2 separate regions of the Homo sapiens genome follow, and region 1 is linked to region 2. The links come from fine-mapping of genetic effects on gene expression. A gene starts in region 2. The other region holds a variant in brackets. All regions are shown on one strand. Distances are between the middles of the regions. Region 1 overlaps UGP2 (UDP-glucose pyrophosphorylase 2). Region 2 holds the start of UGP2 (UDP-glucose pyrophosphorylase 2).

What was found. PIP is the estimated chance that this variant, and not a neighbour inherited with it, causes the effect. A credible set is the group of variants that fine-mapping cannot tell apart.
Region 1: its variant is the best candidate, but not a certain one, in a credible set for the expression of UGP2 in aorta (GTEx, PIP 0.60).

The regions. Positions count from the first base shown.
Region 1 is chr2:63,883,618-63,887,617 of GRCh38, reverse strand. It overlaps UGP2 (UDP-glucose pyrophosphorylase 2), which reads right to left. Exons shown (of 10, transcript NM_006759.4): 5 at 3,525-3,658; 6 at 1,732-2,029; 7 at 1,080-1,277; 8 at 1-216. Among named protein-coding and RNA genes, the nearest start is that of UGP2, 44 kb to the right of the region's middle. The variant G/A (reference allele first, on the strand shown) is at 2,324.
Region 2 is chr2:63,839,335-63,843,861 of GRCh38, reverse strand. UGP2 (UDP-glucose pyrophosphorylase 2) reads right to left here and starts at 1,966. Exons shown (of 10, transcript NM_006759.4): 1 at 1,658-1,966. The coding sequence starts at 1,676. It also overlaps a transcript of WDPCP not described here. RefSeq lists enhancers at 1,860-1,909, 2,780-2,959 and a silencer at 2,010-2,319.

The DNA.
Region 1 (4,000 bases), 44 kb before region 2:
CAAGGGCACTGTAGGAAATTCCCGCTTTTCACTCATTGTCAGAGATCCTGCATTAAGACTATAGAGGTTTGACATCACCAGCAAGAGATCTGATGTGGTTTTGACAGGCAGAAAACGGCTCCTTGGCACATTAATACCTAGAGAATTCTCAAAACTTTTGATGGCAGCCCCTACTGCAGTTTCTAATTGAATGACATTCAGGCCTCCATCCAAAGTCTGTAAGAAATTAGGGGTGGGGAATAGAAAACAGAGGTTTTAGGCACCTACAACTTAGTTCCATGTAGGTTAGTTAATATTTGGGAAGTGATTTCAGAGATCCATTGATGGAAAAAAAAAAATTTTTTTTTTTTTTTGAGAAGGAGTCTTGATCTGTCACCCAGGCTGGAGTGCAGTGGCGCAATCTCGGCTCACTGTAGCCTCTGCCCTCCTGGGTTCAAGCAATTCTTATGCCTCAGCTTCCCGAGTAGCTGGAATTATAGGCATGTGCCACCTACCCAGCTAGTTTTTTGTATTTTTAGTAGAGATGGGGTTTCACTATGTTGGCCAGGTTGGTCCTGGCCTCAAGTGATCTGCCGGCCTCGGCCTCCCAAAATGCTGGGATTACAGGTATAAGCCACTGAGCCTGGCCAGAAAAATAATTTTGAGAACTGACATTTATCAAGCACCTATCATATGCCAAACTCTTAAACATGTAATCTTTTTTCAGTCTTAAAACTCTTCTGTTCAGTAATATCATTTCATGATAAACCATAGGTTCAGAAAACTCATGCAAAGTACCGATGGCCAAATGACCTATGAGTGTCAGAGCAACAACTAAGACTGAAGTAGGTTCTCTACTTTTGAAGCCCAGTGTTTTTGCCACTACCACAACCCAGGGTCAAATATAGGGCACCATAACTTGGCACACTAGAGGGGTGACAGCAGATTCTGGAAGACAGGGCTAGGAACTAGAGTCTGAAAAGGCAAAAGGGAGTGACCAATGGAATAGATGGGACAGAGGGAGTGGGCGATGGGGTCTGTGTGTAGCCTACTATGACCTTAGGAACCAGGAAGCTCAATGGGCCACAACCTTGGCTTACCTTTGCATTCACAATGATTTCCATGTCAATGGCATTTTGCTCCTGCAGTCTTTTAACTGCTGCAAGAGAAATCCATAGGTTGTTTGTATTAAATATTTTGAACTTTGATACAGACTTGAACTCGTCTACATGTGCTTTTGGCACTTGAGCAATTTCCACCAGTCTCAGTTTGCCTTCATATTGAGTGAGTGTCCCGCCCTAGAAAGGCAGAAAATAGTGAGTGCCTCCACATCAGTCTCAAGTGCATTTTTTTGTAAATACAAAGATAGTGATTATACAAAAAATATATAAATACATTATGTAGAAACAGAGTAAATTTTCATAAAAGGGACAATGAAATAACATTTAAATGCCAAACTAGAAGAGTATTAAAGGTTTGGACAACTTTACTGAAAGATTTCACATGTTTCAGATTTTTGCCATAAATATGTATGAAATTATTTTAGTTAAAATTACTGATGTAGCTTATCCAAAAAAATAGAGATGATTTTGATACTATTTATTATGGATTTATGATACATACTATTATGTCAAACAGAACATATTAAATGTGTTGTTTAACATAGAAACTTTCAAATAAAAAAGTCTTTAACTTCATAACTTACGAAATGTGAAAACATGAAGCCCTAAACTGCTTCCTCTCGGTATTTACCTTTACATCTGCACGTGTTTTATTTGTGACTTCCATGACAAATTCACAGCGTTTTCCATTGGGTGGGTTCATTAGATGATTAAGAATATACAGATCCACTGTGGCACCCAGATTATCTATGTTAGACACAAAAATATACTCTTTGCCTTCTCCTATAAAGGTATCAAGCAATCCAGAGTTGTAGAAACTGGCGTAAATATCACCATGACCTGGAGGGTACCAAGCTTCTGTATTTTCCCCTGAGTAAGACACGTCCTTTGCTACAGGAAGTAAAGATTCTTTATTAATCCTCGGGTACCTTTAAAAAAAAAAAAGTTCTTTTTCAATATTGACCCTGTAGAGCATTTCAGGCCTTTAAATAAAATAATACATTAAAGTTAAATAAAATTTCACTTCTTTTCAGAGTCTATCAATAAGTAATTTAATTATAGGTGAATCCATTTAAGAAAATCTCTCAGTATCTGTGTTGTCCAAAATCTGTTTTCCAGATGGTGATAGCTGCTGCAAAAACATGTCTCTATGGTCATACAGATGGGAGGACCCATCATATTTTTAAGATATTCATGTTTTATGACTCTCCAAAAGAAGGGAT[G/A]TATCAAGTAAATTTTCTCAAACTTATGTAGTTGTGAGATTGTTCTTTTCCCTGAAAACCTATCTGGGAAATACTGCCCATTCTTACAAATGGATATATTCAGGGGTGGATCTCTTTCTTTCCCAGAAAATAAGCACCAGGTTAGCATTCCAAGATGTCTGCTTCCCACCACTAGTAAGAAAGGTAAAGCTGGTGATGGGGCAAGAGGAAAACGGGAGCTAGCACCGCAACAGACTAAAGACTAGAAAATAAAGGCAAAACATCTGCAAAGTAAAAAAAAAAAAAAAAAAAAAAAAAAAAAGTAACCATGGGAAATAGATCTTAAAAACAACCAAACAAACTAATGACACAACTTTAGAAATGTCCTTCTTTTTTATTTTTATTTTTATTTTATTTTTGAGATAGGGTCTTGCTCTGTTGCCTAGGCTGGAGTACAGTAGCACAAACAGCCTCGACCTCCTGGGCTCAAGTGATACTCCCACCTCAGCCTCCCAAGTAGCTGGGCTACAAGGGCACACCACCAATGCTAATTTTTAAATTTTTTTTGTAGAGACGACGTCTCATTATGTTGCCCAGGCTGGTCTCAAACTCCTAGGCTCAAGCAATCCTCCTGCCTTGGCTTTCCAAAGTGTTGGAATTACAGGTATAAGCCACCACACCCAGCCTCAAAACATCCCTTCTGTACAAGTTCATGTGGACTGATGTCCATCCCTTAAATGGAAGTCTTATTTCTCCAGTTTCCTGGCCTTCAATCAGAATTCATCATCTGAATTTACTTTTTACTCACTATTCCCCAAAGATTTCCTCCAGAATTTATTAAATTACCCCAAGCCCATAAAAGGTGTTGAAGAAATTCCTTTCCATAGGAAAGGTTATCAATAATGTAGGAATATAAAAAGATTTTCACAGACCCACCTGGAGACCAAATATGCTCTCAGAAAGCAAAGGCTTAAACTATCCCCAAATATTCTGGACATGGAACAGAGTCTCAAGCAGACTGAATTTTAAGAACTGGAAATTAGAGAACCAGAGTGATTATAACAATCACATATCAACAAATGCTCAGCTTTTATGGGCATCAAACACTTGTGAACATCAATATTTGGTACCTGTACATCTTGAAACTGCTCTGTTATAAACAAGATAAAGAAGTCCTTTCCCAGGAGTAACATACCCAGAGTTAATTTTTTACTCATTGTACCTGCTTTGATTGAAAGTGTAGATTTTCACACGACAATGATTGTACTTCTGTAGTATTTTTTTGGTATCTTCATCCGTGTTAAAAGAGTTCATTAAAACAAGAGGAACATCTGTATTGTAGGTTTTATTCAAATGCTAGGGAGGAAAATGACAATTAGATTACCCAGACTCACTTTTCTTTTGCTCAAATATGCAAAATTAGTTCTTAATGGTTAAATCATAAAATATCTAAAACATCATCTGTACGTAGCCAAATATACAGATTTGACAAAAAACTGCTCAGCACGAGCCAGACATTTTGCTAAGCAATTCACCATGCACTTGCTCATTAAATCACTACCCTCTGAGATAGAAACTACTGTCTGCATTTTACGGATGTCTAAACTAAGGCCCAGATAGGTGGTGGGTCTGGCAATGGCAGAGGCAGGACCCCCACCTCCCCACCCTAGGCAGTTTGAGTCTGGAGCTTGTGTACAG
Region 2 (4,527 bases):
CAACTAAGTGCAATCTGGTATCTTAGAGTGAATCATGGGAACTGTAATCTGAACAAAGCCTTTAGTTAACAGTAATGTACCTATGTTAATTTCTTAGTTTTGACAAATGTGCAACTTTTCTATAAATCCTGAAGTATTCCAAAATATAAAAAGTTTTTTTAAAAAAAGTGGATGACAAAGTAATGACAAACATACACAGCAACTCTTACCACTTGATTTTGAATCTTCTGAGGACAAGTTGGCATTACAGCAAAGGCTGTGAAATCAGTCAATGCTTGCCAATTCTGCAACCTATTCTAAAGCATAACTCTACATGGAACACCTTGGGTTTATTAATATTTCTAACTTTTAAAGAGAAGTAACTTGTCCACTTTTACCTAGCATATTCTTGCAAAATACCGCCTTTATGGTAACTGAATATTGTTATTACAAAACCAGTACGTTTCTAACAGTTCTGCCTTTCTATTCTTGAATAAGACATTTACTCAATCAGAACATAAGCATCTCTTACCACATATAAGGTATAACATGAATTTGAAAGTCTAATAACAAGTGACATTTCTGAGCTTAGCGCTAAAGGCAAGCATAGCGTTCGATCTGTTTCGATAATAACACAGGCAGTCGAATTCTCTTACTTTAATCTACTACACAAAATTTAAAGAAGAGTTAATAAAGCGATGTAGAACTCAGTAGGGCATTTTTATTCCCAGGGTCAAATGATGGCCATTACTGACACAACTTTTTTTTTCCAAAAGTACACCTACATTTATCAGGAAGCATAATAAGTGTTTGTGAACTTTACTAGCTGTGTGTTCATCAAGATGGCTGAAGCTTTCACACACTGGAGTCTACAAGGAAAGAGTTTACTTGCATACCAGAAGGCAAATCTCATGCTACAAACTGGTGTCAAAGGTTTATGCCAGCACCAATTTCAGTGAGTACACCGTACACACATGCATTCATATACACGTTACTGATAATCTCAGTTGAGGCATTCCCTAACCCTTTTTAAATACACATGTGGAATTTAGAGAGCAGTTTTCAAACTTCAAAGGAACCTTAATCATCTTTTCATAGTTCAAAAAAGGAAAAAATAAACACAGCAATGCAGCAAAGTCATTTCTCCAGCTGAAATGACCTCCAGCTTCTTCGGGCTACTCCCAGTTTCGCAATAAGTGAATCTGAGACGCAAACCACGTACACACAAACGAAGTAGAAGCGGAGAACACTAAAGCTTCCCCAACAGTCCCGGCAAAACCCACCCGGCTTTTCTCAGTCCTCCCGCTTCCCCAGCCCTTCCCGTCTGCGTGCACGCACAGGTACCTTGACACAGACCAGGAAAAGAGAACAAGGATTAATTAGCAGCCAAAAATCCTGTTTTATCACTTACAGCCACTATCCAGGAAAGCGACGGTACTACTAACCTGATTTCAGGGAGGCAAAACTAAACCCAGCAGGGTACAGGAGCATAAATTATACGCGTCTGGAACGTCAACCCAGCAGCTCAAGGCAGCTCAGATGACAATTCAACGAAAAGGGTTTCGCAAATGTTATCTCAAATGAACATTTCCACTTCCAAACCACCCACCAACCTCTCCACTGTCAGTACCCAAATTTGCCTGAAGCAACTCGGGATATAAGCAGCAGCATTTCTTACCTTGTACAAATCTCGACATTTTAGGGGCTTAGTAAAATACTCCGGCTTTTTTTTTTTTTTTCTAGAGGAGTCACGCTACAGGGCAGGTCTCTCTTCCTCTCCTGCTTTAACAACCGATGTATTCTTTCTCCTCCTATATTTAACTACTTAAGGGAGTATTTATTCAAAGCGATTAAAACTGGCTCAAGAAAAAAGAAAAGAAAGAAAGAAACTCCTTCCCCAATTCCAAAAGACGGAAACTTGGTGCGACTGAGTCGGTTTGGGAACTCCTGAGCTCCGGACACAAATGAGGGCCAGCTGGAGACTCCCGGAAAAGGTAAAACCACACGAACTTAAATTTCTTCAATGAAAGAGGCGGACCTACAGCGGCTATTTCACCGCCCCCAAGTCCCCACGCCCTCCAGGGCTGTACTGCAGGAGGCACTGGCAGGCCGCGCCCCTAGCTGCCCCCTCCCCGCGCCGCCGTCCAGGCCCCAAACGCCTCCCCCGAAAACCCCGGTTAACAGCGGCTCCCGCCCAAGCAGGGGTCGGGGAGGCGGGCGAGGCCGGCCAGCGGGGGCAGTGCAACCATTTTCACCAGCCATAAACATCCTGGGACTAGGAGGCGCTACCAATTCCACGCTCTGGCTGGCCGACCGGTCGGGGCCTCAGCTCCCCGCCTTCCCGCCTCGAGCAGTGAAACCCGGCCGCAGCTTTTTCTCGGTAGGGGCCGAAGGCTACGCTGCCCCTCCCCCGCAGCGGACACTAAGGGGTCACCGGCTAGAGGCAGACCCGTGCACCGGCGCGGGAGTCCCAAGGGAGGGCACCGACCCTTCCCGTACATATTCTCGCCCCGCCTGCCCTGCGCTCCTCAGAAGCCCAAATTCCGCCTCCGAGACCACACAGCGGGCCAGCGAGAGCGGGAAACACACTCATCCAGGGGGTCGCCGGAAGCCCAACCCCGCCCCTCCTCAAGCCGCCAGCGAGACCCACCTTCCTCTTCCTTTAGCAGCTGGGAAATTGGGGGCGTTTATGGCGCCCCGGGAAGAAGGCTCGCAGGCTGAAAGTCACCTCTGAGGCGCCCTTCTCTCTCTCTCTCTTCCCTCACACATGCACACCTTGAGCCCCTCCCTAACGGTCGCAGCCCAGCTGCTAACCCCCCCTTGTCCACCCGTCAGCCGGCTCCCGACACCCACAGCCCCTACTTTCTCCTAAACACCTCCCCTCCCCCTCCATTCGGAGCAGCCCCTTCAATGCGGAAATGTCCCTGCCGCACGGACCGACAGGCGCAGCCGCCAGTCAGGAGCCGAGGCGGACGCAGGCTCTGGCCAATGAGACGTGTGGAGGTGGCAAGGGGCGGGGCGTTGCGGCACTTGAGAGCCCGTCGGAGTTGGGCACTGAGCAGTACGCGGGGATACCGCGCGTGGGAGCAGCACTTACGGCGGCGTTGCGGCCAGGGAAGCCTCGCCAGTATATCTCAGTGAGGGAGAGCACCTGAGCACGACTGGTTATTTTTCCAATCAGTAAAAATATTCCCGCTGACTAGGGACTAAAGAAAGCCCTGCGGATAGAGCCGGAGCTCCCCACCGCAGCTGCCCCGAGGGAGCCCAGACGCTTCTCAGGGGACGCTTGCTCCCCTCATCACATCTGGTTGGGGGAGGGTGAGGATGCGTTAGGGAGTAGGCATTGGCCTGTGTGGGCCAGCTAACAAAAGGAGGGTTTAGGCATTGAAGAAAGTGACAAGTGAAGGCTCCCTCACCGGAACCACCACCATCCCCATTGCCCCGGTTCCTAATCCTGTAGAGCTGCTGTGATAGGCGTTTACTTTTCTCTTCAACGTGGAACTGGCCTAAGTTACTCCTCAAGAGATGCTTTTCTTTTGGTAGATTCTTGAAGTCCTCAAGGAAAGAGGATGTTACACGGAACTTGACACTAGCCTGGGGACTGTTACAGGGCCAGCCCACGGCTTGTCAAATCACACCTGGTACCGTCAACCCCACCTGCATCTAAGACTCAGTGTGCCTGGCAGCGAGTGCATTTCAGACTTTGCATTTCCACTTTAAGACTCAAATAGCCCGCACCAGGGCAGATGATTTGCCAGCGCCTTCTCTTAAGTGCCTTCAATAAACAAGTACGGTAATTACAGAAGAGTTTGAGGCTTTGGGCAGCACTAATCAACCAAGGTAAAGTGAGAATTTTTTAATGACTCATTGTCTAAACAAAGGAACTTTGATTTTTTGGTTCTACGTCTTTATATGGAAATGTTATTAGAACAAACAACACAGAAAAGGCTAGTGAAAAATTGTTATACTAGAGAATGACAACCATTGGTACTGTGTTTCTTACATGAAATCCAAAAAGATTACACTCAAAAACCTCTCGGCCGTAAAACGAATTTTCCCCAGACAAAACAAGTGTCTAAAATCCAGATGTCTACAGTTTAATAACAGCATTTGGAGACTGAAGATCTTAACAAAATCTCTACATCCTTTGTATACAGTACAAAAATTGTTCCAGCACTGAAAAAGCAGTCTTTACCAATGAGCATTAGTACCAAAATAAAATACTACCGAAAGATTTGGGCCACGTAGGGTTACTTAGCCTGCAAAAGATGAAGGACAATGAAGAGATTTATTTGTTGTTGTTGTTTTGTTTTTGTTTTTGTTTTGAGACGGAGTCTTGCTCTGTCGCCCAGGCTGGAGTGCAATGGCACAGTCTAGGCTCACTGCAACCTCCGCCTCCCGGGTTCAAGCGATTCTCCTGCCTTAGCCTCTCGAGTAGCTGGGGCCGCAGGCTCGTGCCACCGCACCTGGCTAATGTTTGTATTTTTAGTAGAGGCGGGGTTTCGCCATGTTGGCCAGGCTGGTCTCAAACCCCTGACCTTGTGATCC